Linked DNA regions of Homo sapiens. The protein of the gene in region 1 purifies or fractionates together with the protein of each later gene. This does not show direct contact. Each region holds a gene or a part of one and is shown on either strand. Other genes may lie near its edges.

Region 1 (7,022 bases):
ATACACATTTTTTTTTAAAGCATTTTAGGAAGTCCTCTAATTATATAGTAAAAATTGTCAGCAATGGCCTGCTAGTTTTCTATTTGACCTAATCACAACCATCCTCGTTAGGTCCTGAGGTCTGCTCTGCTGCTTGGCCAAAACCAAATGGTGCCAGGTCACAAAGCACTTGCACATGTGAATCCTGCATCCATTCTACAATGGGTCACTATTGACTGAAATACTTTAATAAAAATGATAGAGCACATAAAGCTTGCTGTTGACAGAAACTTCCGTGCTCAAGCAAGGCAGTGCTATACATGGTGAGACCTTGCACAAAGTCAGTTAACTAACAGATGATCTAGAAGCAGGTGACACAATGAAATACCCTTTGGAGCTGTTGCCTATGTCTGTGGATAGGCTCTTTGTAGCTAGGTTAGGCTTCTGTGTTAAAGTGTGTTAGAAGAAAGCATCACATAAGGAAAATAGAACTCTATTCGTATGTTTTTTCAAAACAGAAGTCAAGTCACATTCAGGCAAACCAAATCTGTAACATTCAAGAAGATGCAGTGACTCTTCCGCATCTTAGAGCCACGGTGTCTGAGGTGGCTGGCATGGCTCCAACACGCTGGCTTCCCTGTCAGTGGATCATTTACAATATGGTGCATTTCAAATTACTGGTGAATTCACTGAATACTGGCTGTTTTTTTTTTTTTAGGGGTAATCTTATACATAAAATTTAGGAAAAGAAAGAGAAAAAAGCAAAAATGACAGAAATAACTCAAAAGTTCCTAAAATTTATGTGTATCTTTTCGTACCTGTGAACTCCTGAATAAGTATTTATATCTGACAGGTACAAATACAATAATTATATTTTTAAGTAAAACCTATTTAATAATATGAAGTATGGTGTTAAATACATGTATTAAAAGATAAGTAACTTCAGAAGTCTTCTGACTTTTTAATTGTAAAATAAGTGAAAACTGTTTTGTGCTTTTTTATTTACTGTATGCTTTTTTTTTTTTTTTTTTTTTTGAGATGGAGTCTCACTCTGCTGCCCAGGCTGGAGTGCAGTGGCGCCATCTCGGCTCACTGCAACCTCCGCCTCCTAGGTTCAAGCGATTCTCCTGCCTCAGCCTCCCCAGTAGCTGGGGTTACAGGCATGCGCTACCACGCCCGGCTAATTTTTGTATTTTTAGTAGAGGTGGGGTTTCGCCATGTTGGCCAGGCTGGTCTCAAACCCCTGACCTCAGGTGATCTACCCACCTCAGCCTCTCAAAGTGCTAGGATTACAGGCATGAGCCACCACGCCTGACCTACTGTACGCTTTTTACAAGCAGCGTGCTTTTCTTTTTCTTTTTTTTAAAGACAGGGTCTCACTCTGTCACCCAGGCTGGAGTGCAGTGGCATGATCACGGCTCATTGCAGCCTCAACTTCCTGGTCTCAAGTGATTCTCCTGCCTCAGCCTCCTGAATAGCTGAGACCACAGGCATGCCCCTCCACACCTGGCTAATTTTTTAATTTTTTGTAGAGATGGAGTCTCACTTAGTTGTCCAGGCTAGTCTAAAACTCCTGGGCTCAAGTGATCCTCCCACCTTGGCCTCCTGAGTAGCTGGACCCAAGGGCGCTTGCCACCACTCCCAGCTAAGTACTTTTCATATTAAAAAAAAAGAAGAAGAAAAAAGAAAAAAACCAACTCCACTTCTAATTTCACAACAGAAAAATTCTTCTAGTGCTATTACTCTACTTAATTCAATCCTGTGTTGTTGTTTTTTTAAATCAGAAACATGAATCTGTACCAACACTTTTTCTTAATTGGCTCCTTCCCCTACAGAAACACTTAGGTAGCGAGCTGCAGGAAACCTGCCTTTGTCCCTGTGTTGTGCACTATGTCTTGCCACACTTTAGACAAAACAAAGCTCCTTTAGAGAAACCCTGGCTGGAGGGAAGAAAAGTGTCCCGGCTGTCATTGCCATGGGAGTCTGGAGTTTCTGAGAGGGCAGCCCAGGTCACCAGAGTTTCCAGATTTAGTACCAACCGTGGAAACATGAAGGTGGCTGTAATCCAAGGTGAACTGGACTGCCAGAGGAATGTCAGCTTCGGACAGAAAATGGAGGATTCCTCATCTGGAGCCTGTCTCTATTGCCTGATTTTCAAAGAAACCAAGTTTTCATTTAACTTTAGCTAACCTTCTTTCAGAAAAGTTTAGTTATTAAAATACATTTAATGCTTGGTATTGTGAACATGCAGACGAAAGAAAATAAGATTACAAAATGAAATAAGAGCTAGAATTAAAAGCCGATGTATAGGAAATGTTCTCAACTGTGCAAGTGATTAACAGCCAGATGTTCCCCTACGATTCCAAACATGAGTCCCCAGTGCCAAGTTCCAGCCCCAACTCTGCTGGAGTCTCAGAGAAAATGTATAGTAACAAAAGCAGCCAAGACTTGTGTGGCGTCAGCTCTTATTTCTTCTTGAGTTTTTGTCCCGTGGATGTGAATCACTAAGAACACATGCATTCCTCAAGTTTTAGAAGATAAATAAGGTGGAAAAAAATAAATCTTAGGGATTTGCTTCAATTCTTATTTAAGCTTCATGGAATGCAAACATAGGAGGCTAAAGCAGAAATAAGTATTGCTTCAGTGATCATGAGTCCAGCCAGCTTAGTAAACAAAACAGGGGTTACCTTCCTAACCTTCTAAGTTCCCATTTACCTACAAGTCTGAGGGTTTTAATCTGCCAGGGTCCCTTGGCAAAAGGGTCAGAAGTCATTGTCACTCTCATCCAGGGGTTCAGATTTCCGGACCCTTCGATTGGGCTTGGTTGGTGAGAGAGAAATGCTCTCGTCTTCCAAATCGTCATCCTCGTCATCATCATCTTCCATGTCAATTTCACTCTCCTCCGAGTCCTCCTATAGGAAAAAAATGGCAGATGCAACGGGGGATCCTGCCTCATTCCTGACATCTTGTCCTAAGACTCTCTGCCTCCCTTTCTATAGCAGCATCCCTGTGTGAAGGAAGAGGCTGGCAGAGTGGCAAGCAGGCTGTGGGAGGGCATACAGATGGGACTGAGGCTATGTACTGCCAGCTGGAATTTATCATCCAACCAGAATCCTCCAAACTGCAGGTGCATCTGGGTGTGGTGCTGCAGGGGCTGGCTTTCCCGCAGCGTCTAAGAAGCACTCTGCATCTGCGCTGAGGGCCACTGGACCTAGAGACTCCCCCTACAGATGGCAAGAAGGACAGGGGCTTGGAGAGAGGGAAGGGAGGCCTGTTTTGGCTTTTTGTAGATTGTGGATGGAAAGCAACATAGACATTGGTATAAGGAGCAAAGTGAATCCCAGCTACTCCGGAGACTGAGGCAGAAGAATCGCTTGAACCTGGGAGGCAGAGGTGCAGTGAGCCGAGATTGCACCACTGCACTCCAAAGCAAGACTCCATCTCAAAAAAAAAAGAAAAAAAAGAAAAAAAGGGAGCAAAGTGAAAGACACACCCTCTCTCTCCTCATCGGATCCAGGGCTCCAGGGTGACCAACTCAGCCCAGCTTTAAAACGGCAGTTCCTGCGTCCCATGTAAACCAGGATGGCTGGTCGTTCTATCTAGATCATTCCTGTCGGTGCACACTCATGCTGTAATTTCCTTCTTGAAAAAAAACCCCAAAGGTAATCCCACCTTCCTCTCCAGCTGCTCTGCCCTGTCTCTCTCCCCTCACACAAAGCTCCTGAGCGAGTCGTTGAACTCACTGTCCACACCTGTGCCCCTCACGACTGCTTCAGTTCCCCCGGGCTCTCACCTACTGACCCCAGCACTGCTCCTGTCAAGAAGGAAACATTCAACGGACTGGGATCGATTCTCAGGCCTCATCCTGCTTGAGCTGTGGAATCACCCCTTCATCCTTAAAACCCATCTTCTCCATCCCCCAGGGCCCCTTCTCTAGTCCAGGTCCCCCTTCCTCACTGCTGACGCCCCTCAGCCTCCTCTGCCTGCCCCTTCCTCCCGGACCTCTGCAGGGCAGATGCAGCTCAGGACCTTGGGTCGCCTCTCTTCTCATTCTACTTGCTCTCCCTAGGCAGTCACATCTATCCTTGTGGCTTAGATACCAACCAAATAAGGGTGGCTCCCAAAATTCAATCTCTAGCCCAGACGTGGCCCTTGAACTCCAGACTTAAATTCCACCTGGCTACTCAACCCTAGCATGTGGCTGTCACATTCAGAATGTCCAAAATCAAACTTTCGATCTGCCTTCCAAGCCCCTTTGTCAAGTCGGCCCCATCTCAGAAAATGAAACTCTGCTTTCTGCTGATTAGACCAAGCCCAGGCACCCTCATTTTTCTCTTTCTCTAACAGCCTATGTCCAATCAATTCACAAAACCTGATGGTTCTTAGAGAGACCCAGGACCTGACCATTTCTCAACACCTCTGCTGCCACACCTTCGGCCAAGCACCGTCACCTCTGACCTCCACGGGTGCAGGCGCCTCCTAACTGGCTTCTCTCAAACAGGGATCATCAGCTCTTGACCCTTCTGGGCTCATGATTCTTCAGGGCCTTCCCCTCACACTCAGAGAAAACAGAGTCTTCATCTCACCCTGCAAAGCTCTGCATGGCCCCTGCTGCCTCTCGCACTCACCCACAATCACACCAGCTGCCTCTGCTCCTCGATGCGAGGAGTGCATTCCACATGCCCAGGTGCCGCCAACCCATGCGCTCGCTCCCTCCACTCAGGCCCTGCTCAAACACCACCACGTCAGGGGCCTTCACTGACCTCGCAGAAGACGCCACCCCCTCCTTGTTCCCTGTCACTCCCTGTCCCCTGAAGCTGTTATTCCTCCTGTTAACACCATGAGCCCTGATCCGACAATCCATCATTATTGCTGGGGTGTGAGCCATGAAGCAGGGGCTTGCCTCTGCCCCTGCTGCGTTCCCCATAATCCACGACAGCACTGGCATGTGGCAGGCACTCAACAGACACGTGTTGGATGCCTGAACACGTAAAGCATGGAACCCTGTGCCTGGAGGGCGGCATGGACACAGCCTCCTTGAAATAAACAAGTGACCACCAGGCATAAAGCTCAGCTGCGACTAATGCATTCGCTCTGAGGAGAGAGAAGGCAAACCCTGGAGAAGAGGCAGGCGGTGCTGCCTCAGCATTGCCAGCACCCACGCCACACTCCCTCTGCTTCTGTCTTGGGTGGGCAAGACGGAGAGACGCTGTATACCATCCACACCCGAGCTTGTTAGGAAAATTATTTTCCAGTTGCTCTCTCTGCTTCTCTACAGACTGTGCCCTGTAAATTCAGGGCACATGGAGGCAGCCTGGGGTCAGTCTCTGTTGAGTCGCCCTTTGCTGTGTGGGCCGAGCAGCACTGCCAGGGACGCAACAAAGAACGTAGGCTTGAGCAATGGGCGGCAGAGCCCTGATGACTGGACCTCACTGAGGACCCCTAGAATCCCCTTTTGCTTAAGTGCTCCAGGGAGTTATCCACTCAGTAAAGCTCAAGGCAGCTTATGTCTCAGCCTCATGCCTGGCACCTCGAGGGCCTGGTCTGGGGACAGTGCTGCTTCACCATTCCGTCCCCAGCACAGAACAGGGAGGGGGGTTGGTCCTGAGCCCGGCCCTCGGCGTCCTCCTTCATTTCTAGGTGGCGGCCCAGGGCCTGAGGATGGCCCGGCCTGAGCTTTCCCCGCCTCCAGGCTCCGTGCCTGCGCCTCCACTTTAGCACAGGGGCCTTCAGTGATCCCGCTGTCACCACAGGATCTCTTTTGAGTGGCCTTTTTGCCCAGGAGAGAGGAAGCATCACTCCTAGGGAGAGGCCCCTGGCTGGCCCCGGGAGGGCTGACAGACACCCACAAACACATGAGGCAGAACAGAAAACCAACCTGCTTCTTGGAGCTGGAAGTCTTGCATTTACCTAAGAGAGCTGGTGCTGCTTCCATCTTTGGAAAGCGAGAATGGAAAGAACAGTGAGAAGGCAAAAAAAGCAGAGCAAGCACATTCACTTGAAAAGAGATGAGCCATCCACGAGCAACGAAGAGTCCAGAGCCTCATGAGGCCAAACCCTGCCACGCATCGAGGCACGGCCGGGCTGACCATAGACGGCTCCCTGGCTGCTGACAGCAACTCAGCCACTCCCATCTATGGGGACAGCCAAACCCAGAGTGCACAGAACCACTGAGGGGAGCGGGGGACTTACATTGTCATCGGAGTCTCCACCTTGCATCGTGCCCACAATGCGTTTGCCAGGTCTTCCTGAGAACAACAAAAGCATGAAGAAGTCATAAAAATCTTGGAAAATAAAGCAGGAAATAGCATTCAAGATTTGTTTTCTGGCCAGGCATGTTGGCTTTTGCGTATAATCCCAGGAATTTGGGAGGCTGAGACAGGAGGCCAGGAGTTTGAGGCCAGCCTGGGCAACATAATGAAACCTCATTTCTACAGAAATTTTTTTAAACATTAGCCAGGTATGGTGGTTCACACCTGTAGTCTCAGCTACTCGGGAGGCTGAGGCAGGAGACTCGCTTGAAACCAGGAAGCAGAGGTTGCAGTGAGCTGAGATCGTGCCACTGCACTCTAGCGTGAACGACAGAATGAGATTCTGTCTCCAAAAAAAAAAAAAAAAAAAAAAAAAAAAGCAACTGTGCTCCAAACATTAACAGGTGGTAGATAAGAAATGTTTTTAAAGGCAAATATAGGAGAATTTTATAGTATTAAAATAAAAATTTATGGAACCTTTGACCTAAGAATTTGACTTTTAATGATGCAACCTAAAGATATGCAGACATGCAGAAAGATGTATATACAAGGAAAAGAGGGGAAATATCAATGCGAGAACGCCCAGTAAATCATGGGTACAGTCCTGCTAGGAATATGACATAGCCATTAAAAAGTAGGGGGCAGGCCAGGAGTGGTGGCTCAGGCCTGTAATCCCAGCACTTTGGGAGGCCGAGGCGGGTGGATCACCTGAGGTTGGGAGTTCGAGACCAGCCTGGCCAACATGGTGAAACCCCGTCTCTACTAAAAATACAAAAATTAGCTGGGTGTGGT
Region 2 (7,150 bases), on another chromosome or scaffold:
CTCACACAGCCAGCCCACCTGCAAGGTGCAGTGTAGGAGGAAGCAAGGCCAACAGTTAGAAGGAGATGAGCCCTGGCCCCTTTCATCTGGCCTCTGTCTAGGTGACCAAAGCTCACTTGGTCCTGGATATAGTTAGCAGCATGAGGAGTGATGTTCCTAGGACCAGTGGACAGCATGGACGCTGCCTTCTAGAAGGTCTTAACTCCCCATTAAATCCCCAGCACTCAGACAGTAATCCATACATAGCAGTGATTCAGTAAATGCTTGAATGATACTTGATGTGGTATCTTCACTAGAGATATATGAATATTTAGCAAGGGCAGGGAAATATGCTCAAAATCACTAATCACTACAGAAATGTAAATAGGAACCATAACAAGACACCATTCCACACCCGTAGAAAGATGAACGTTAAAAAAGACTGACAGGGGCCGGGTGCGGTGGCTCACGCCTGTAATCCCAGCACTTTGGGAGGCTGAGGTGGGTAGATCTTGAGGTCAGGAGATTGAGACCATCCTGGCCGACATGGTGAAACCCTGTCTCTACTAAAAAATACAAAAAATATCTGGGCGTGGTGGCAGGCACCTGTAGTCCCAGCTACTCAGGAGGCTGAGGCAGGAGAATGGCATGAACACGGGAGGCGGAGCTTGCAGTGAGCCAAGACAGTGCCACTGCACTCCAGCCTGGGCGACAGAGCAAGACTCTGTCTGCGGGGTGGCGGGGGGGTGCAGGTGGGAAGACTGACAGGCTGGGCACAGTGGCTCACACCTGTAATCCCAGCACTTTGGGAGGCCAAGGCGGGCAGATCACCTGAGGTCAGGAGTTCGAGACCAGTCTGGCCAACATGGTGAAACCCCATCTCTACTGACAATACAAAAATTAGCTGGGTATGGTGGCGGGTGCCTGTAATCCCAGTTACTCAGGAGACTGAAGCAGGAGAATCACTTGAACCCAGGAAACAGAGGTTGCAGTAAGCTGAGAGCATGCCATTGCACTCCAGCCTGGGCAACAGAGCAACACTCCATCTCAAAAAAAAAAAAAAAAAAAAAAAACCCAAAAACAAAAAGAAGAAGAAAAACAAAAAGACTGACAATACCAGATGTTGGCAGGGATATGGAGTAACTTGGGATTCAATATATTGCTGGTGGGAATGAATGATGATGCAGCCACTTTAAAAACAGCATGGTAGTATTTGTAGAGTTAAACATATTCTTACCATACAACCCAACAATTCCAATACAAGAGAAATGAAAACTTTCACAAAGACTTGTAAGTGAATGGTTATAGCAGCATTTTTTTTTTTTTTGAGACAGAGTCTCACTCTGTCACCCAAGCTGGAGTTCAGTAACACGATCTCAGCTCACTGCAACCTCCGCCTCCCAGATTCAAACATTTCTTGTGCCTCAGCCTCCTGAGTAGCTGGAATTACAGATGCACCCCACCACGACTGGCTAATTTTTGTATTTTTAGTAGAGACAGGGTTTCACCACATTGGCCAGGCTGGTGCTGAATCCCTGACCTCAAGTGATCTGCCCACCTTAGCCTCCTGAAGTGCTGGGATTACAGGTGTGAGCCACCATGCCTGGCCAGCAGCATTATTCATAAAAAATAAAAAACTGAAAGCAACCCAAATGTCCATCAACTGATGAATAAACAAATTACACTATGAAATACCATTCAGCCACAAAAAGGAATGGCATATTAATATACGTGTAACAATATGAATGAATCTCAAAAATATAAGAGAAATAATGAAATACAAAAGACTGTGTACTGCATGATTCCATTTATATGAAACTCTAGAAGAGGCAAAATTATAATGACAGAAACCAGATTAGTGGCTGCCTGGGGCTGGGGTGGGGAAGGAGATGGGCTGCAAATAAGCAGCAAGAAATGTTTTAGGGTGCAGGGACTGTTCTGTATTCTGATTGTGGTGGTGGTAACATAATTGTATATAATTACCAAAATGTATCAACCTGCACACTTAAAATGTGTGAATTTTATTGTATGTAAATAATAAAATATAAATTTTAAGTAGAAGAGACCCCCACATCTAGATATACCATGTGCAAACTTCTGGCAAACCAATAATAAAAATAAAATCTTGAAGGCAGCCAGAAACAATAGACAGAAGAACAAAGAATTACGGAAGACTTTTATTCAGAAACTACGCAAGCCAGAAGTCAATGGAGTAACATCCTTAAAGTACTGAAAAACAAAAACAGTCAGTCTAGAATGCTACACTTTTCTTTTTGTTTGTTTTTGTTTTTTAAAGACAGAGTCTTGCTCTGTTGCCCAGGCAGGAGTGCAGTGGTGCCATCTTGGCTCACTGCAAGCTCCAACCCCCGGGTTCAAGCGATTCTTGTGCCTCAGCCTTCCAAGTAGCTGGGGTTACAGGCACACACCACTACGCCCAGCTAATTTTTATATTTTTAGTAGAGACAGGCTTTCACCATTTTGGCCAGGCTGGTCTCAAACTCCTGACCTTAAGTGATCTGCCTGCCTCAGGCTCCCAAAGTGCTGGGATTACAGGCGTGAGCCACTGTACCCCTAGAATTCTTTTTTTTTTTTTTTGAGACGGAGTCTCACTCTGTCACCCAGGCTGGATTGCAGTGGCATGACCTCGGCTCACTGCAAGCTCTGTCTCCTGGGTTCAGGTGATTCTCTTGCCTCAGCCTTCCTGGTAGCTGGGATTACAGGCGCCCGCCTCTGCACCCAGCTAATATTTTGTATTTTAAGTAGAGACGGGGTTTCACCATGTTGGTCAGGCTGGTCTCGAACTCCTGACCTCCCAACTCTAGAATTCTATACTTCTATGCTTAATAAATATTTGTGGCTGAATTTACTGGAGGTGGTTATAGGGGGACATGGAAGGAAAACTATAAAAATGCAATTTAGTATTTGTTGATAAACCATACAGCCTGACTGGCATTGAAATTGGTTGTCTGTATAACTTTTCCATTACCAACTGAACTGTGCTAGAAGAAATATTAAAGGAAGTTCTTCAGACAGGAGGGGTATGACACCAGATGGCGATTTAGATCTCCACAAAAAATGAGGAGGCCTGAAAATGGTAAAAATGAAGGTCAATTTAAAAGTTATAATGGGGGCGGTCGCGCACACCTGTAATACCAGCACTTTGGGAGGCCGATGCGGACGGATTGCCTGAAGTCAGGAGTTCCAGACCTGCCTGGCCAACATGGTGAAACCCCGTCTCTACTAATAATGCAAAAGCGAGGCTGGTGTGGTGTCGGGAGCCTGAAGTCGCAGCTACTCATGAGGCTGAGGCAGGAGAATCACTTGAACCTGGGAGGTGGAGGTTGCAGTGAGCCAAGATCGTGCCACTGCACTCCAGCCTGGGCGACAGAGTCAGACTTCGTCTCAAAAAAAAAAAAAGGTTATAATGGTGTTCTCATTAGAAGAACTACAGACCCCAGAGCTCTCAAATCGCCGGAAGGATTTCTGCGGTAGGCCTGTGCATGATGGACAGAGGACAGGTGGTAAAGAATCACGGACACCTAGTAGGACAACTAGGCATGGCTTTGTCCCGGTTTCAGAGCACCGACACAGCATTTAGTCACCATTTACCTTCTTGGGAGGTGGGTTAGGCAGCGGGCACACTAGTCCTGCTTTGTGGGAGCAGAAGTGAAGTCTCAGAGAAAACAGGTGACTTGCCCAAGAAGCCTTATTAATTACCAGCCAGGACAGCGTATTTTCTATTCCGTGTGTTTTGGGATAACTTAGTGCCGTCCCCTCCGATGAACCAGTGCCTTCGAAAGCCCTTGAGATTTGGGAAACAGGCGGCACAGATCTTGGAGGTTACCTTGTTCTTAATCAGTCCTCAGGCAGTCGCCTCTAACGCGAGCGAACACCGGCTTCCCGAGGCCGTCGCTCGGCAGAGGAGGGGCCAGGCGCCCGATCCCAGATCCCCTTTCCCCGCCCCGCCGCGCCCCGCCTGCTCTGGCACAGCCGCACTCCCGCAAATCCCTCCCGCGGAACCCCCACTCCTGCCTGCGCGGGCGCTGGAAGGCGGGCAGGGGGCGGGGCGCCGCGGCGCGTCCGTTGCTAAGGCCGCGCAGCCCTAGTGACCGAACGCCCTGCGGCGGCCGCGCAGGCGCTGTGGTGGGCTCCGGTGCACTGTGGGATGGAAACCGGAGCGGCGCGTCCTGGCAGGACCGGGCGGCGGCGGCGGCGGGGCCGGCGGCGGCCAGGGACCCGGGCTTAGGCTCGGCCAGGCCGGCTGAGGGGCGCGGGCGGCCAGCGGGCGGCGGACGCCGTCATGAACGCGGCGGTGGTGAGGCGGACGCAGGAGGCGCTGGGGAAAGTGATTCGGAGGCCGCCGCTGACCGAGAAGCTGCTGAGCAAGCCCCCGTTCCGCTACCTGCACGACATCATCACGGAGGTGGGCGCCGGGGACCGGGCCCGGCCAGGTGCGGGTCGGGATTCCGGTGGGCGCCGAGGTCAGGGCCCGGGCCGGGTGGCGCCGGGTGCGAGCCGGGCTCGGGCTCAGGTGCGGGTCGGGGGCCGGGGCTGGGCCGGAGTCGGGGCCCGGGCCGGGTGTGAACCGGGTGTGGGCCGGGCTCGGGGTGCAGGTCGGGGACCTGTTCAGGGCCGGGTGTGGGCCGGGCACAGGGTGCGGGTCGGGGGCCGGGGTCAGTTCCGGGGTCGGGGCGAGAGTTCTGTGCGGCCCCTGCCTGGGAGCCCGGCCTGTAGGCCCAATTCCGCGGCGCCCTCCGTGAGGAGGTCCTGCCCCTCCCCCGGCTCCGGGCCGCCGCTTACAAGGAGGCTCCGGGCCCTCAGGAGCATTCTTACTTCTTCCCTGCCTGCCCTTGTATTTCCTTAGAGTGCATCTTCCATTATTGCTGGCAGAGCTGCTTCTGTGACTCCTGCCTCGTCTAACCTTGCAGAACCCCTCTCGCTTGCCCTGAAGTATGTAGCACGTGGAAGGCACTCCCTAAATCCTGGGAGAATGGAAATAATATTTTTTATACAACCCTTCTGCCCCAAAGTTTCCCTCCATACCACATTTTGGGTGCTTAATAAATGCCTGCGGGTGGATTTAGTGGAGGCGGCTGTAGGGGGACTTGGCAGGAAAGACTGTAACAGAGCTGCACAGCCTGCCCTACGTTGAGATTGGTGGTCTCTGTAGCTTTTTCCACTTGCGGATGGTGTGCTCCTCCGTGACGGAGACCCTGGCTTGCTTATTAGCATGGCTCTGGTGATCTGCACTGGGTAAGGTACATAGAAATTGCACAACAAACATCCCCTGTTGAGTGGGACCTGTCAAGGCTCGTGGTAACTCCCTGGTAACTCTCAGGAGCGTCACTGCAGCGGGCGCAGCACCCATTTCCATGGTGGACCCAAGGGCACGTGGGAACTCAGAGGTGTGTTTTGGGATTTAGGATTCAGGTTGGACTTGCAGACTTCCAGGGCCTCATGACCTCACCTGGTGATGGTCCTCAAGCTCTGTTTCTCACTCTTTTCAACAGGTTGGGTGCCTTATTCTTGCACAGACTTTGCTTTACTGGTTCTGCCCTCCTACCTTAGCTTATAACGTGTGGTCTCCTGGAGCGTGTGCCTCTGTGTTAAAACAGTGCCTAAAAATGCTCTCGAATCCACCCACATCCCAGGGCCTCGCCAGCCCTGGTCATGTCCTCCCAGCTGGTGCAGCACTTACAGCCTGTCCTGGACAGTGTGTGGGGAGAGGACCTGCTGTGTGGATAGCCCGGTGGGAGGGGGACAATGTGCCGCATCACCACCGTCCCGTGAAGTAGGCGGGTACCCGTCCTCTGACCCAGAGGGAACAAGAGCCAGTGTGAGCCCAGCCCACTCTAGCTGTGGCTGCCAAAACCTTTATTCTCCCAGGCCTGTCTGTCCCACTGAAATGCAGAGCCCCAGGAGGGAGGTGCAGGGAGTGTGCCTTATCCTTGTGGGGCAGTGATGGCGCTCAGCTCACGGTGGCTGTCCAGTCACTACCGCATAGTTGGTCAGAGGAATCCTAATGGGAGAGGAGGAGGAACATGGGCTGGGTGCTGTGGCTCACGCCTGTAATCCCAGCACTCTGGGAGGCCAAGGCGGGCAGATCACTTGAGCCCAGATGTTCAAGACCAGCCTGGCCAACATGGTTAAAACTCCATCTCTACTGAAAATACAAAAATTAGCTGAGTGTGGTGGTGCACCTGTAATCCCAGCTACTCAGGAGGCTGAGTAGGGAAGATTGCTTGAGCCGGGAAGGTTGAGGATGCAGTGAGCTGTGATTGTAACACTGCACTCTAGCCTGGGTGACAGAGTAAGACCCTGTCTCAAAAAAAAAAAAAAAAAAAAAAAAAAAGAATTGCCTTCTTGGCCAGGTAGATAGGGTGTGTGGAACGAGTTGCATGTTCCCAATTAGGAACGACTGGTCTGCTCTTCTCCCATAGACTTCCTCATCTAATGCCAAAGTTGATTTCTCTCCCTGTGTAAAGATAAATAAATTATGACCTACTTGATAAAGTTGTTAGAATGACTGACATATTGGAAAGGATTTTCAGATAATAGGTGGAGAGCCTCTTATGAAAATGCTTTACTGTACTGAATATTATACACACATTGCTATATTAGTATTTTAGCTATAGCTACACTAACCACCCCGTTTCATTAAGCTAAGTGTGGATACTGTGACGTTAATGTCTCTTGTCACTTACAGTTATTGTTCACAATTTTTTTTTTTTTTTTAGAGGGATTCTTGCTCTGTCGCCCAGGCTGGAGTGCAGTGACACAGTCTCCACTCACTGCAACTTACGCCTCCCAGGTTCAAGCAATTCTCCTGTTTCAGCCTTCTGAGTAGCTGGGACTGCAGGCACATGCCACCATGTCCAGCTAATTTTTCTATTTTTAGTAGAGATGGGGTTTCGCCATGTTGTCCGGCCTGATCTCGAACTCCTGACCTCAGGTGATCCGCCTGCCTCGGCCTCCCAAAGTGCCGAGATTACAGGTGTGAGCTACTGTACCCAGCCTATTGCTCACAATTTTAACTGCCAGCATCCTGGGAAAACCTCAACAGGGACAAAATGAAAATGTTCCAGGAATGTTAAATGCAGGATGCTCTTAATATTCTACCTGTCATCTCAAGAAAAACAGTAGCATAGCTCTTACATAGTGTGGTGTGGAA
Region 3 (7,022 bases), on another chromosome or scaffold:
GAATGCCCAGAATTGGGCAAAGCGATAAAGCAGGAGGATCAGCAAAGATTGATGAGGAGCCCTCAGGCCTTCTAACCTAATATAATGAAGAGTTAGAGGATCATAGTGATGGTGGTGTGGCTATTTTCTGGTTTGAGGATTTGCAGGAAAATAGACTTTTTACTTCTGACTTTGGAGATAGGTGAGTTTGGAGTGTAAAGTGTCAATGTTTGAAGCCAGAACTCTAGTGTCCAAATAATTAAACAATTGGGGCAGAAGAAAAGCAGAATAAAATGTTTTGTTTTCAAGGAAGGAAACCCTTAGTAGCAGAGCTAGTCCCTTAGGACCAGAGCTAGTGTTGGAAGGGTCAGATCTGGTCAGAATAATTCACCTGGAGATAACTTCTAACTTGGGTTTCTCTGAAGTGGGTAGTTAAGAAGAAAAGAAAGTGGGATTATTCGTCCTGAGTCTCAACTCGTACTCGCCCATCCTGAACTCTCACTGTCTCTCCCTTTCCTTTCAAATAAGCCCAAACTCCTTTGCCTGGCTTCAAAGACTTCCTGAGCTGGCCTGTTTTTCCTGCCTTACCCCGTCTATTCTACTATTTATAAGGTATAATAGTTTCAAATAAACTAAATTACTGTTTCTTGTCCAGAATTTGCCTTTGCTCATTGCCATTCCTCCCATCTCAGATAACTTCCTACTCAACTGCATTCATTCTTCAAAGCTTAATTTTGATAATTTAAGCATAAAATTCTCTCAGGCTTCTCCAAACTATTGTAGTACTTTATACATACTTTAATAGGACTTTTCTATTTTGCACCATCTTATTAGACGTGGAGGCAGGATCTATGGTTTGCTTTTTGTCTCTCTCTCAGCCCCTGGCCAAGTGCCTTGATCAATAAGGTGCTAAAAAAATATTAATTGAATGAATGGCTAATGACCAAAACTTACCAGACTAATTGAATTTATTTCAGTAGCAGACCTGGAAACGAGGAGGCCGTTGCAGGGATTCATTGATACAGTTGACTTAGCACCCTGCCTCTTAGTGCATTTGCATATGAGTCTCTAGAAGCCTGTTGTTCTCACAGTCCAGGATCTGAAGGCCTTGGAGACCAGCATGGGCCACAGGCATCTCTTTGTTTTGAGGATAGAACCGTGACAGGAAGAAAATTGACCAGTATTACACTAGAATTAATGAAGCTAGAAATGCTTTTGGCATTCTAGACCAGCACATGGGTTTGTTTTTACCCCTTTGCCTCTACAGGATGGAGCTGCAAAGGTGACCTGCATGGCTTGGTCCCAGAACAATGCCAAATTTGCTGTCTGCACAGTGGACCGAGTGGTCTTGCTGTATGATGAACATGGAGAACGGAGAGATAAATTCTCCACCAAACCAGCTGACATGAAGGTAAACAGTGTATTCATGTGTACCTTATTTAACCTATTGATGGGGTCTCACAACTTGAAAGACGTAGTCTGCCTTCTAGCCATCAGCATAGGAAATGGCATACCCCACCTTTTTCTCAGTATAAATCCTCAAGCTCCCTTAGGAGCACACATATGCCTTTTTTTCTCTTTTCTCTTTCATGTGTACTCATTACTTCTTTTTCTTTCTTTTTTTTTTTTTAAACTCTTAGTATGGCAGGAAGAGCTATATGGTGAAGGGCATGGCTTTTTCTCCTGATTCCACTAAAATTGCCATAGGACAGACTGACAACATCATCTATGTCTACAAGATTGGAGAAGATTGGTGAGGATAGAGACTGGGAGATGGGATGGCCCAGGAAAGAAGGGGAAGGCAAGAGAAATGCCTCACTGGGGAGGGGAAATACAGGGGATGAGAAGCCAAGCTTGGCCATTGAAGGCAGAGACTTTCTGGAGTCTGTTTTTGCTTTTCTGCCTTCACCTGTCCCACGTGTTCTTCAATCCCATCCCTGGAGGAAACAGTCCAAGGTCAACAGGAGGCCCTGTGAGATCCTGGAAGCCCAGAGTGATGTCACATCTTTGTTATTGTTCTGAAGCTGCTTAGGCTCCCTCATATACCTCCTTTCAGGGCTCCTACAGAGTAGTCAGAAATACTACTGGGCCAGGGAAGAAATCTGCTCTTTCTTCTCTTCCCTCAGCATCATTTTTGGCAATTTGTTTATGGAAGTGGTATTTATTTATTTATTTATTTTGAGATAGAGTCTCACTCTGTCACCCAGGCTGGAGTGCAGTGGCGCGATTGTGGCTCACTGCAAGCTCCTCCTCCCAGGTTCACGCAATTCTCCTGCCTCAGCCTCCCGAGTAGCTGGGACTACAGGCGCCCACCACCACACCCGGCTAATTTTTTGTATTTTTAGTAGAGACGGGGTTTCACTGTGTTAGCCAGGATGGTCTCGATCTCCTGACCTCATGATCCTCCCGCCTCGGCCTCCCAAAGTGCTGGGATTACAGGCATGAGCCACCACGCCCGGCCTGGAAGTGGTTTTTAATATGTTTCCCCTTCTTTTGTTTGGCAGGGGTGACAAGAAAGTCATCTGCAACAAGTTCATCCAGACGGTAAAGTTCAGACCAGTCCCTGGAACCTTAGGATGAACAAACATATATCAGTATATCTACTTATAAATACAGCCAGGAGTTGCATTTCTAACATCTGAATGTGACTTTTCCTACTGCAAGGATGGTGCTTCATGGCTGTTCATGGTCATCTGCTGTCTTCCTTAGAGCCCTGCTGTGTCCTTCCCTATAGGAGATTGAGGTGGTGGTGTGTGGTGGGGTGTTGAAGTTGTTATAAAAGTGCTGGCCCACACAGATGGGGTTATCCTTTTCATTGTTTCCTTCCACGCAGAGTGCTGTCACTTGTCTGCAATGGCCGGCAGAATACATCATTGTCTTTGGACTGGCTGAAGGGAAGGTAAAAGAGGGAAGGGAAACACAAGAGAGGGGGTGGTAGGGATAATGGTTCTGGAGAGAGGAATATGGTTCATCCTCTTTCTTAGGATCAAGTTGCGTACTGGGGAGAATGCATAGGGACCAGTTTTGTGGGACAGTTTTTCCTTTTTTTCTTAGGGCCTAGTTAAATATAAAATAGCCTAACCATACTTGTATCAATTTTTCCATTTTCAGGTTCGTTTAGCAAACACCAAAACTAATAAATCATCTACCATCTATGGGACAGAGTCTTACGTGGTGTCCCTGACAACAAAGTGAGTAAAGAGGAGTAGTATCACTAGAGTCTGGAAGTGTTAGGAAAATGCTGTGGGGAAGTCTGGACTGCAAGACCATAGTATGAAAGGCAGGAGAACTGGTAGCAGGAAGCACAGACAAGGTTGTGTTTGACAGAGAAAGGGGCTTTCTTGGTGAGATAAAATAGTCTCTTCCTGTATTTCTCTCCTTTCTCCTTTTTTAGTTGCTCTGGGAAAGGAATTCTCTCTGGTCATGCAGATGGTACCATCGTTAGGTATTTCTTTGATGATGAAGGCTCTGGAGAGTCACAGGTATGAATAAAGAATGTTGTGGGAGGCTTGGATTGCTTGAGTCCAGGAGTTTGAGACCAGCATGGGCAACACAGTGAAACCCTGTCTCTACCAAAAAAACAAAAAATAAATACAAAAATTAGTCGGGCATGGTGGCATGGGCCTGTAGTCCCAGCTACTCAGGAAGCCGAAGTGGAAAGATCACTTGAGCCCAGGAGGTTGAGCCTGCAAGTGAGCTGAAATAGCACCACTGCACTACAGCCTGGGTGACAGAACAAGACCGTGTCTCAAAAAAAAAAAAAAAAAAAGATGCTGTGGAATAGGGGATAAGGAAATTCCAGGAGCCCTCCTAGAGGAGGTTGGACTTCTAAGGCATTTGGATTGAGATACTAAGAGAGGAAGCTAGAGGAGAACTCAGGGACAGAGAAAAAGTTGGATGTGGCCACTGAGAGGATTTGTGTTTAGGAGCCTGGAGCTTACTGCTTATAAGAAGGGATGAATTAGGTGAAAGGGACCTTGAGACAAAGGGAAATAAAAACTCTTAGAGTAATGAAAAGTGAAAATTATTCCCATTTATGTAAAATATATATATTTATGTATGTAGATTCATAGAAAAAAGAGTTAATAGTTTACTCTGGAAAGGGGAAAGGAAAAAGATGGGGGATAAAAAGGAAACTTTCATGTTTTACTCTATATAATTGTGTGTTGTTTGAATCATTTACATTAAGAATTACTTGTGAGCCGTGCCTGTAATCCCAGCACTTTGGGAGGCCGAGGCGGGTGGATCACCTGAGGTCAGGAGTTGGAAACCAGCCTGACGTGAAACCCGTCTCTACTAAATACAAAAAAATTAGCTGGGCGTGGTGGCACATGCCTGTAATCCCAGCTTTCTGGGAGGCTGAGGCAGGAGAATCGCTTGAACCTGGGAGGCAGAGGTTGCAGTGAGCCAAGATCGCATGCCATTGAACTCCAGACTGGGCAACAAGAGTGAAATGCCATCTCAAAAAAAAAAAGAATTACTTGTATAGGCCGGGCACAGTGTCTCACTCCTGTAATCCCAGCACTTTGGGAGGTCAAGGCGGGTGGATGACCTGAGGTCAGGAGTTCAGGACCAGCCTGGCCAACATGGTGAAACCCCGTCTCTACTAAAAATATAAAAATTAGCCGGGCATGGTGGAACGTGCCCGGAATCCCAGCTACTCGGAAGGCTGAGGCAGGAGAATTGCTTGAACCCGGGAGGGGAGGTTGCAGTGAGGTGAGAACGCGCCACTGCACTGCAGCCCCGGCGACAGAGTGAGACTCCATCTAAAAAAAAAAAAAAAGAAGAATTATTCGTATAATACTGAAATTTGACCCTCCTTAAAAAAAGAAGCCCTATGCTCTTTGTGGGCCCAGACGGTGTTGGTTAATGTGTAGCACATCTCCTTTTCTGAGGAGCTTTACCAGGTGCATATTAAAAATTTCCAATACATGCTGGGCGTGGTGGCTCACGCCTGTGATCCCAGCACTTTGGGAGGCTGAGACGGGCTGATCACAAGGTCAGGAGTTCGAGACCAGCCTGACCAACATGGTGAAACCCCATCTCTACTAAAAACAGAAAAATTAGCCTGGTATGGTGGCACACACCTGTAATCCCAGCTACTCAGGAGGCTGAGACAGGAGAATCGCTTGAACCTGGGGAGGCGGAGGTTGCAGCGATGAGATTGTGCCACTGCACTCCAGCCTGGGCGGCAGAGTGAGACTCTGTCTCAAAAAAAAAAAAAAGAAAAAAGAAAATTCCAATATACAAGCATTTTGAGGTTTTTCTAGAGCACAAGGTCAACCCCTATGTGTATAGGGGTGTGTGTGTGTGTGTATGTGTGTGTGTGTGTGTGTGTGTGTGTGACAATTTGTGAAGAGTTCAGGATTAGGATGTGTTGGGATAGGGAAATGTTGGAAGAGATTTCTGCAGGGTATGATGGTCAGAGTGAATGTACCAGGTGTTGAGAGTGAGGAATTTCTCGGGTGGAGTCTTCGAAGAGTGATTGAAACCCTCTACTTCTGTCTTAGGGGAAGTTGGTTAACCACCCGTGTCCACCCTATGCCTTGGCATGGGCAACCAATAGCATCGTGGCTGCAGGCTGTGATCGGAAAATTGTAGCCTATGGAAAAGAAGGTCACATGCTACAAACTTTTGATTATAGCCGTGACCCTCAGGAGCGGGAGTTCACCACAGCTGTATCAAGTCCTGGGGGCCAGTCTGTTGTGCTAGGAAGTTATGACAGGTAAGTCCCCTTTCCAGTTTTATCTACTGCCTACTTTCCCTGCGAACACTCTCTGCTTTAGCCAAATTATTCTGAGCCAGAGTGCGAGACTGGAGCAGAATCAAATGTATGTATGTAATTCATGCGCTTTCCTCTTCCTGCTCCCGCTATCCATTGGTGTGCTGGCAGTTCCAAAATGTCCTGGGCTCTTGTTTTGTCTCTGTGCCGCTCCCTGCACTTCCACAGCAGAATTCATCTCTATTTTCTGTTTCCATTGCCCCCTTTGAGACCGCTTAGAGTTTCTCACATTATATTACAGTTTGTTGTTTGCAAACTACTGTTGTTTAGCCAGATAGATGGCTAAATCAGAGTCCTTGAGAAGGGGGCTTATTATTCATCTTTTCAGTGCCTAGATTAGCATCTATATGCTATATATATTTAAGATATGCTCAGATGTTTGGCGAATGAATGAATGAATGATGGAACAGCAGATAAACAGCCATGTTCCAGGTCTCATCATTTCTCTGGCATGTGTTTAACCCCAGCTTTATCAGTCCTGTCTTTCTATCCCCTTCAATCTTATGTCTCCTTGTATTCTCTTCTTTCTTCACTGACTCCTACCATTTATCTCCTTGTTCCATATTTTTTTGCTCCTAGTAGCTTATTTTTCTCACCTGCCCTGGTCTTTTTGTTTTCTCTGCTCCCCTCACTCTTATTCTGTTTTAGTTTTGCCTTGATTTTCCCAGCTTATTTCCTGTGCACCTTTATATCCTCTTCTGCTAGACTGCCTAGCTTGTCTGTTCTTTTTATTTCCTTTCTTTTCTGATATAGCAAGACTAATTTCCTTTGGTTATCAGCCCATTTGCACTCTTTAGCTCAGCCTCAATCTCTTCTAAAAGCCACATACTTTATTTCAGGCTTCGGGTGTTCAACTGGATCCCTCGAAGAAGCATCTGGGAAGAGGCAAAGCCCAAGGAGATTACCAATTTATACACCATCACTGCCTTGGCCTGGAAGCGGGATGGCTCACGGCTCTGTGTGGTGTGTTACTAGTAATCCCTTTCTGGATTGGTGACTTTCACCAAACTAGAAAAAAATCCTGCCTTATCCTAAAGCACTGTTCCCTGACACTATAGAATCTCCTCTTTCCTTTTGACCCTGACCTAAAATTCTGGCATTAAAGGCAGGAAAGAGAAATTCATACTTTACCCTAGGTCACAAAAGGGACAAAAAATTGTGTGTAGGCAGGGCTAGTTTTTCCCTTTTATCCCATTAATATGTTGTGCCCTTGAGTCCAATGATTGTAGCCTCTTTCCTTTTGGTAATTCCAAAAACTGCC

The links. Proteins that work in one complex are often made in the same cells at the same time.
Region 2: the proteins of CLUAP1 (region 1) and TRAF3IP1 purify together in Homo sapiens (affinity purification with mass spectrometry, with the first as the bait; 2 studies listed by BioGRID). This does not show direct contact.
Region 3: the proteins of CLUAP1 (region 1) and IFT172 purify together in Homo sapiens (affinity purification with mass spectrometry; 2 studies listed by BioGRID and IntAct, with this or other methods). This does not show direct contact.

What each region holds. Positions count from the first base shown.
Region 1 is NC_000016.10:3,531,991-3,539,012, reverse strand, and holds part of CLUAP1 (clusterin-associated protein 1), read right to left. Parts: intron 6,228-7,022; coding exon 6,172-6,227; intron 5,915-6,171; coding exon of another isoform or gene 5,858-5,914; intron 2,892-5,857; coding exon 2,742-2,891; 3' UTR 1-2,741. UniProt on the Homo sapiens protein: Required for cilia biogenesis. Appears to function within the multiple intraflagellar transport complex B (IFT-B). Key regulator of hedgehog signaling.
Region 2 is NC_000002.12:238,316,384-238,323,533, forward strand, and holds the start of TRAF3IP1 (TRAF3-interacting protein 1), read left to right. Parts: upstream 1-4,134; 5' UTR 4,135-4,279; coding exon 4,280-4,402; intron 4,403-7,150.
Region 3 is NC_000002.12:27,479,728-27,486,749, reverse strand, and holds part of IFT172 (intraflagellar transport protein 172 homolog), read left to right. Parts: intron 1-507; exon of another isoform or gene 508-591; intron 592-1,246; coding exon 1,247-1,390; intron 1,391-1,619; coding exon 1,620-1,732; intron 1,733-2,483; coding exon 2,484-2,523; intron 2,524-2,583; exon of another isoform or gene 2,584-2,722; intron 2,723-2,812; coding exon 2,813-2,878; intron 2,879-3,090; coding exon 3,091-3,170; intron 3,171-3,373; coding exon 3,374-3,461; intron 3,462-5,489; coding exon 5,490-5,704; intron 5,705-6,600; coding exon 6,601-6,724; intron 6,725-7,022. UniProt on the Homo sapiens protein: Required for the maintenance and formation of cilia. Plays an indirect role in hedgehog (Hh) signaling, cilia being required for all activity of the hedgehog pathway.